2 separate regions of the Homo sapiens genome follow, and region 2 is reported to be linked to region 1. The links are microRNA targets in miRTarBase. Many come from high-throughput screens and were not tested one by one. Region 1 holds a microRNA gene; the other region holds the end of a gene's coding sequence.

Region 1 (4,385 bases):
CAACAAGAATGAAACTCTGTCTCAAAAACAAACAAACAAATAAACAAAAAAAACAAAAATCAGCCGGGCATGGTGGCATGCCTGTAATCCCAGCTACATGGGAGGCTGAGGCAGAAGAATCGCTTGAACCTGGGAGGCAGAGTTTGCAGTGAGCCAAGATCGTACCACTGCTCTCCAGCCTGGGCAACAGAGCAAGACTTCATCTCAAAAAAAAAAAAAAAAAAGGCTGGGCGTGGTGGCTCGTAATCCCAGCACTTTGGGAGGCCAAGGCGGGCAGATCACCTGAGGTCAGGCGTTTGAGACCAGCCTGGCCAACATGGCGAAACCCCAACTCTACTAAAAATACAAAACCAGCCGAGCATGGTGGTTCATGCCTATATTCCCAGCTACCCAGGAGGCTGAGGCAGGAGAATTGCCTGAACCCAGGAGGTGAAGGTTGCAGTGAGCCAAGATTGTGCCGTCGCACTCCAGCCTTGGCAAGAGCGAAACTCTCTCAAAGAAAAGAAAAAGAGAAAAGAAAAAAACCCAACCACGTAAAGTGTTTACCAGGGCACCTAGCACACAGTAAGAGCTCAATAAATACTAGCTGTTGTTATTCCTATTATTGTTAATCACCCCTATGACTATCACTATTATTTATTCACTCAACAGATATTTACTGAGCACCTACTATGTGTCCCATATTATTCTGAGGATACAGTAGTGAACAAGATCACATAGGGCCAGGCACAGTGACTCACGCCTATAATCCCAGCACCTTGGGAGGCTGAGACAGGAGGATCATTTCAGGCCACGAGTTCAAAACCAACCTTGGCAACATAGCGAGACCCTACCTCTACAAAAAATTTAAGAATTGGCTGGGCATGGTGGCACACACCTGAGTCCCAGCTATTTGGGAGGCTGGGGCCAGAGGATCCCTTGAGCCCAGGAGTTTGAGGCTGCAGTGAGCTATGATTGCACCAGAGTACTCCAGCGTGGGTGACAGAGACCTTGTCTCTAAAAAAAAGGGGGGGGAGGGCCGGGTGTGGGTGTGATGGCTCACACCCGTAATCCCAGCACTTTGGGAGGCTGAAGGTGGAGGACTGCTTGAGCAAGTGAGTTTGAGACCAGCCTGGGCAACATGGTGAAACCTTATCTCTACAAAAAATACAAAAATTAGCCAGGTGTGGTGGCATATGCCTGTGGTCCCAGCTACTTGGGAGGCTGAGGCGGGAGGATCGCTTGAGCCCAGGAAGTTCAAGGCTGCAGTGAGCTATGATCACACCACTATACTACTCCAGCCTGGGTGACAGAGCGAGACCCTTTCTCAAAAAAAAAAAAAAAAAAAAAAAAAAAAAAGGATCAATATGGGCCCAACATTCAGGAAACTGACATGAGAGTGAGGAGAAAGATAAACTAGTAAAAAATTAATTTACATGAAAATCTCAGACAGTGATATGTCTGTATAGATTCTAAGAGACCAGAGGAATGAGACTGTAGCTACAGGGAGATTCTGCAGGAGTCGGAAGGCGCCTTGAGGAGGGTGCACAAGACGGGGAGCAGGTATAGGGATGAGCTGGTAGGTTAGACTCTGGAGAAGACAGGACTTAGAGGAGAGAGCTCCTGGGAGGTACCTGGTCCTACCTCTCTCTTGGCCCAGCCGTGGGGGCTGAGCCTCCTCAGGGACCCCTTCTGGGGGTCCGGCAGGTGACACAGGGCGGCTGGGCTGGGGGGTGCCCCCAGGACTGGGCTCTGTGCCCTTTTGCAGGGAACCTTCCGAATGGAAACTCTGGTTGCTGTTCTCATCTGCGGGAGCAAGAGCCGAGATGGTTGGCCTGAGATCCCTAGTACACTCCTTCAGTCCCCACAGCCCCCCGCGTTTCAGGATCCCTACCTACCATTAAGATCCAGCAGGATGAGAGGGCCACCCCCTCGGGGACTGGCGCCCCTGCCCCGACGTTCCCGGCCACGGGATCTCTCTGCCCCGCCACCTGCCCGCCTTCGCTCCTGGGGGTTAGAGGATTAGGGTCAGAGCTCTTGGAAAGCCCCACCATACACCTAAGGAAACTGAGGCACTGAGAAGCAAAAGGGCTCAAACTCAGGGGGTGTGGAGCAGAAAAGAGGGCAAAAGGGGAGGAGCTGCTAATGATGGTTCCCGTCTGTCCTGCTGCATCTGAGGTCTCGGGGAGCTGGAGGTAGAGGTCAGCGTGGGGAGGAACTTGCCTGAGGTTGCACAGATGCAGGGCCTTGTGGGAATGGGGGTTGCTCACCTCCTCCTGGGGATCCACCACTGGCACCCACTTGAAGATACGAAGGGAAGTGTCGCCCACAGTCACCCATCGCTTCTCCCTGTGGGAGGGTGGGGGGCTGGGTCAGAGAGGCCTGAGGGGAGACCCACCCCCCTAGGAGCTGGACACATCTGGGGGTACCTGCAGAGGTTGAGGAGGCACAGGAGGATAGCAACAGTTTTGCTAATGGGGCATAGTTACATGGAGGAAGAGAGTCCTGCAAACCCCAGGGCATAGGCGGTGGGTGCCTCTAGAGAGAGGATATGATTTGGGGCCCTGGCTCTGCGGACCCCTGGGGCACACATGGGGGGCGTGGCTATGGGCCTGGCCCGGGATCAGAGCCCTGCAGATCCTGGGGCGCACCTGCAGGAGGGGTGTCAAAGCTTTAGGGGGCGGGGCACAAGAGGGGGCTCCCGCTCTGGGAGGACACGGCTGGGGATCACGCTTTGTAGACCCCCAGGAGTAGCCAGGCGAACGGGGACAGAGCCCTGTGGATCCAGGGCAAAGCTAGTGGGTGGAGATACACCGAACACCCGGGGCCCAGAGCTGGCGAGGGCAGCGTAGACGCCTTTGGTGCTGGTGGTCCCGCTGTGTCCCGTCCCTGGCCCCCGAGCAGCGCTCACCATCTCCGGACCTTCTCGATGGTCGCCATCACCTTCTTGATGTCATCCTTGGCCCGGCTCCGGGTCTCGGCCCGTACAGTCCGGCCGGCCATGCTGGCGGGGCTGGGGCCGGGGCCGAGCCCGCGGCGGGGCCGCCTCCCGTCCGGCGGGCTCAGGCTCCGCGCCAGGCCCGGGCGCCGCGCTCTCGGCCTGCCGTCCCCCCTGGAGTTGGCCGCGCCCTCTCTCGTCCCCAACGCCTCCGCAAGTCCCCGCCCCGTTTCCTGCCGCCGCGCCCCGCCCCGGCCTGTCCCCGGAGCGGCCCGGTGGCGCGGGCGGCCAGAGCCCAGGCCTGGAAGCCCGGCCGGCCCCGCCCCGACCCGGGCCCGCCCCCTTGGAGCGCCTGGACGCTCAGCGCCCCCTGCCCGCCGCCGAGAGCGGGAGTTGGGGACGGACGCGCGAGTTGGGGACGGAGAGCGGGAGTTGCGACCGGACGCGCGAGGCAGGGCCGAGGCCGTGTGTTCAGACCACGTGGGCGCGGGGTGCGCGACAGGGTCTGTGTCCTGCGCTGCGTGAGCCGCGGTGGGTGTCCGCGAAACGCTGTGTGTGGAGTGCGTGCGTGTGTCCGCCCTCGCCAGGCTGTTGGTCTACACCGCCCAACTTACTCAGTCATCCATTCATTCAACAGTCTTGTTAACTGAGTGCCAATTACGCTCCAGGCGCTGCGAATACGAGTGGGTCTCCACCACCAGAATGGCTAAAGTGAAAAAGACCGCACCGTGTGGAGGCGAGAAAGTAGAGCGACTGGACCTCTCTTGTATTTCTGGGGGAGTGTAAATTGGTAGAGACATTTTGGAAAACTGGCAGTTTTCTAATGAAGCCGAACATATGCCACCTCTGTGATCCAGCAGTTCCACTCCTAGGCTGTCAACACCCAGCAGAAATGTGTAGGTGTGAGCATCAAGAGGGTGCATGGGAATGTTCAGAGCCCTTTCATAACAGCCCCAAACTGGAAATAACCCATCAACAGAATGGAAAATGAATGATGCCCTACTCACTACCATGCACATAGACACAGCAACGGGATTGACATGCCCGGCTACACACAGCAACATAGACAAGTCGCATGATGAAATCTTGAGTGACAGAAGCCAAATGCAACAGTACATACTAGATGGTTCCAGGTGTATTACGTTCAGAACCAGACAAAACTAATTTATAGTGCACCAAAGTCAAGATAGTGATCGCCCTTAGGGTTGGGAGGGGACGAGGGGAGAGCTTCTGGGAGCTGATCCAGTTCTGTTGTGTAATCTGGTGCTGGTTCCCTGGGCATATGTATTCTGTGAAAATCCATCACATGACTTAAATAAAATGTACATTACTTAAATAAAATGAGTGTGTCTTTGTTGACTTTATTTGAGGCTGGCTTGTCAGCAGATAAGACCATGTCAAAATTTGTGCTGCTGTTGTGTGTGTGTGTGTGTTTCAAGGTGTGGCTGTTGTGTCTGTGAATTTGGGC
Region 2 (3,678 bases), not on the chromosome of region 1:
TTGAATCTGACCCCCGCCTCCTCCCCAGCCAGGCACACCTATGGCACCATGAACAACCAGCCGGAAGAGGGAGAAGAAGAGAGTGGTCTGAGGGGCTTTGCGAGGGAGCTAGACTCGGCCCAGTTCCAGGAAGGGCTGGAACTGGAGGGCCAGAACCAGTACCACTGACCGGGACCTGAGGCCTCCACTGGCGACTTGTTGAGGGGTCAGGGGAGGGCCTGGCAAGGGGAGGCAGGAGGGTGGCCTGGACCTCCCCACTACCTCCTGCAGACTTTGAGAAGCCCACAGTGGAGACATCCACCACCCCAGCCATGGGCCATACGGGGGTCCTGACCTGCTGCCCGGCTGGAACTGGGGGTGCTCGGCAGTGCTGAAGGAGCCTGGGAAGGGATGGGAGGATACAGGCAAGCACATGTCTTGAGAGAGGTGGCTGGAGCCCCGGCACAGAGACTGAACGCTGGGGTCCCTTCCTGGGACCAAGATGGAGAAGGTGTTCCTAAGGGAGGAGACAGAAGGAGGCTGCCGAAGGCTCTGTGGGGTCATCACCACTCTGCATCAGCTGCCCTTCCAAGGAGCTTCTGCTGCTGCTCCTCCTCCCAGCCCCGGCCCATTCCTCCCCTGCAGTCTGAGGAGGCAAAGGTATGTGCACGGGGCACATTGACAGGACACGGAGGACCACCTCATCACAGGGTTCCCTGCATGGGGATCTGTAAAGAGAAAGTTTCTGCACCCACCAGAGCAAGAGCCAACTGAAAGCGTAGACCTGAGAAGAGGTAACTCAGCCCCTTCCTGCTCCTCTGCCCTCATCAGATGTCCCCAGGAGCAGCAGGGCAGAGGCCCTTCTTTCTATTCTTACAAGGGTAGCTAGAGCGTGATCACTCAGGGCTCATCAAATGAGACTCGTGTGCATTTTTCAGAAGGAAACCTTGGTTAGTCCTTGCTGGGTAACACAAAGTGGGGTGAGACGACAGAAGCCGAATTCATGGAAGGGGGGTCTTCTCCCCAAAACTCTGTGTGGTGGGAAACCAGCTATACCTCCCCAAGCCCCAGGGCCTAAAGAGAAGACCCCCGAAGCCAAAGATGTGGCCACTTAAAAGCGTCTCCTGCCTCCTACCCAACTGAGTGCCTGGGCCCCCAGCTTGGCCAAGATGGGCAGTACGTTAGGGTAAGAACCCCATGCTTCAAACTTAAGGACTGACCATCACCTGCGTCCCAAGTAGGACCCTTCCTCCCTTCTCGGGGCTGCCCCTGCACCCTGCCTTGAAGACCACCCAAGCGGCCTCCAGTGTGGGCCTGGTCCAGACATTGCAGATGCTTCAACCGTGATGTCGCCCCAGGCCTGCCAGGGGTGTGGTGGAGGGGAAGGCCACGTGCTCCAGGGAGAAGCCCTTTCTGGAGAAGCAAGGCTGTCCTCCCAGGGCTGCCACTACCAGAGACCTGGGGGAGCTGAATTCCGAACAGTGATGGTGACACTCAGCACCTTTGCCACAGCCGGGGGGAACCGGCTTCTGCCTCTGGGATGGGCTCTCATCAGGACCACCGTGCAGCCCAGCCAGGGAGGACATGAGAAGGGCCAGTGGGGGCCTCAATGAACCAGAACAAGCCAAGCTGAATGGGGTCTGTGTGCTCCAGGGCCCTCTTCAGCCCCCTCCCCCAAAGGTCTGGGTCCCTGCCACCAACCTACTGAAGGCCGGCCCCCGGCTCACCTCACCTGAGCACCTGCACCAGGCCCCAGGCACATGGCTGCCCTGAACTCAGATCACCTAGACCTTGTCCCTGCCCCACCTTTGCCCCATCCTAGCCCCAGAAGCTCCAAGCTTCACCGCAGGTGAGAAATTGTGCTCAATGGGCAGAAACTGCTATACCCCCAGGGCATGGCCCACATTTTGGCATGAGGGTGTCTTTCCAGAGAGCTTGGGTTGGCTGGAGAGAGGCTGTCTTTCCCATTCCTTGTCCAGCTAGGAATAAAGGGGAAATGGTCCTAGCCTGGCCCCTACACACCCAGGTCCCACAGGCCCCCTCCCCACTGGAATTTCACCAACCAACAAGGGGAAAGTACGCTGTTACAGCATAGCGGTCAGGCCCAGCAGGAGCTTGGCACATGATGGGGAGGTGGCCAGCTCCAGGCCCTGCCCGACCCCATCATGTGTATTTGGTGTATGGGGTGTGGGGGGTCACACCAGAAGCTGGCCTGGGGTCTCTTCTTTGCTGGACACAGCTCCCTGGCCCCTGCCCCCAGCCCCTGCAGCCCCTGCCGGACTGTGGAAGCCACATATGGGAAAAGTCCTGGCAGACAATGTGGCGGGATGACTGGGGGCTTCTCCCTCTGAACCTGGGTCCAGTGTAGCCTGGCTCTGAGAGAAGGTGGTGAGCATGTGGAGAAGGTTCCATAGTCCACTCTTAGGGGAACCAGCAAAGCCTCATGGCAGTTGGCTCCATCTGGACCTCCCATGGTCACTACAGGATGGTGGAGCAGGGGGCATCTTTTAGCCTCCCCCCGCCACCACATCCAGGCCCTCTCAGGCACCTCCTGCCTCAGCCCACACCTGCCTCACCCATTGCCCCCCTCCCCCCACCTACTGCCATCCCACTCCTCTGCCAGCCACTTCCCAGCCGCCCCACCCCACTCCATCCACCAAATCACCTCCTGACTTAATCCTTTCTGGAAGGAGCTGCCGCCCAGGAACCGGTATTGCCTAGAGCCTCCAGGAGGGGCCCTCCTCAGGCCTCCAGTGGCCCCATGCCCACCTGCCTGACCCTCCACTGCCCCTGGAAGCAAAGTGCCTATCAGCAGCGTTGCGTCCTCTGGGGCCCCCGGTCGGGGGGGAGGGGGTGTGGGCTAACCTTGGCCACCACCACAAAAGGAATGTGCCAGAATGCTGAACCTTCTTGTTAATGCTATGACCGTGCCTTGAATAAACAAGTCCTCCCAACCTCTCCTGGCCCCTGCCTCTCTGCCTGTGCATCTGGGCCAGCCTGGCCTTGCTCCGCTGTGCAGTGGAGAGAACTTTCTGGTCCTTGAGCTACCCAGGAAGCCAGCAGGGCAGCCCCGAGGAGCAGCAGAAGTCTCTGGTGAGTGCTGAGCCCCATGAGCAGGCCACTGGGCTAGGCTAGTGGCCAGACTTCAAAACACACAGATTTCAGGTGAGGCCCCAGGAAGAGCGGCAGACAGGGCTCAGGTCTGCAAGAGGATGAGGGTGGGGGACTTGGGGGATGGGGGAGGTGGAGGAGAGGTTGGGTGGAGGAGAGGTTGGCACGAGGGAAGTGTGTGGGGCAGCCAGGTGGGATAAGAAACACCCGTTAGCAAAGGCTGTTATAACTGTGGCAAGGAGACAACAGTTCCCTGCCCTGGCGGACACATCTCAGGGTCAGGAGACTGGTTCTGTCCCTTCCTCCAGCAGCTGCATGACCCAGGCTGGTCACCTCATCCAGACAGTAGGGCTGGGAGGACATGAAGCGGACTGTTCTGCTTCGTGACTGAGCAGAGCAGATTTGAGGGCAGAAGATGGGAATCTTGTGGGTGTGTTGAGTAGGGGGAGACTTCCTCCCGCAGTGCTCCCTATGGGGACAGAGGATGACAGTCTCAGGGTGGCTGCCTAAGGACTCTTTCCTGCATCATCCTCGCTGGGTCCTCTCCGCAAACTTCTACGGTCCATCAGTGGCCACTGACTCAAAGTC

What was found. The annotated mature microRNA hsa-miR-762 reads GGGGCUGGGGCCGGGGCCGAGC and lies in region 1 at 2,989-3,010, shown strand. An mRNA with a match to its seed (bases 2 to 7 or 8) in the 3' UTR can be bound and repressed. Matches are read on the target gene's strand: a 7mer-m8 pairs with bases 2 to 8, a 7mer-A1 pairs with bases 2 to 7 and ends in A, and an 8mer does both.
Region 2: miRTarBase lists TMEM63C as a target of hsa-miR-762. Seed matches in the 3' UTR shown: 7mer-m8 at 597-603, 7mer-A1 at 1,545-1,551, 7mer-m8 at 2,236-2,242 and 7mer-A1 at 2,537-2,543.

What each region holds. Positions count from the first base shown.
Region 1 is chr16:30,890,963-30,895,347 of GRCh38, forward strand. It overlaps MIR762 (microRNA 762), which reads left to right and starts at 2,941; the gene lies at 2,941-3,023. It overlaps BCL7C (BAF chromatin remodeling complex subunit BCL7C), which reads right to left and starts at 3,115. Exons shown (of 6, transcript NM_004765.4): 1 at 2,891-3,115; 2 at 2,250-2,328; 3 at 1,878-1,986; 4 at 1,624-1,785. The coding sequence starts at 2,982. It overlaps MIR762HG (MIR762 host gene), which reads left to right. Exons shown (of 3, transcript NR_110942.1): 3 at 3,586-4,258. RefSeq lists enhancers at 2,072-2,704, 2,243-2,572, 4,316-4,385 and a silencer at 2,953-3,432.
Region 2 is chr14:77,256,559-77,260,236 of GRCh38, forward strand. It overlaps TMEM63C (transmembrane protein 63C), which reads left to right. Exons shown (of 24, transcript NM_020431.4): 24 at 1-2,937. The coding sequence ends at 168. LOC124903351 (a long non-coding RNA gene) reads left to right here and starts at 3,261. Exons shown (of 2, transcript XR_007064276.1): 1 at 3,261-3,678.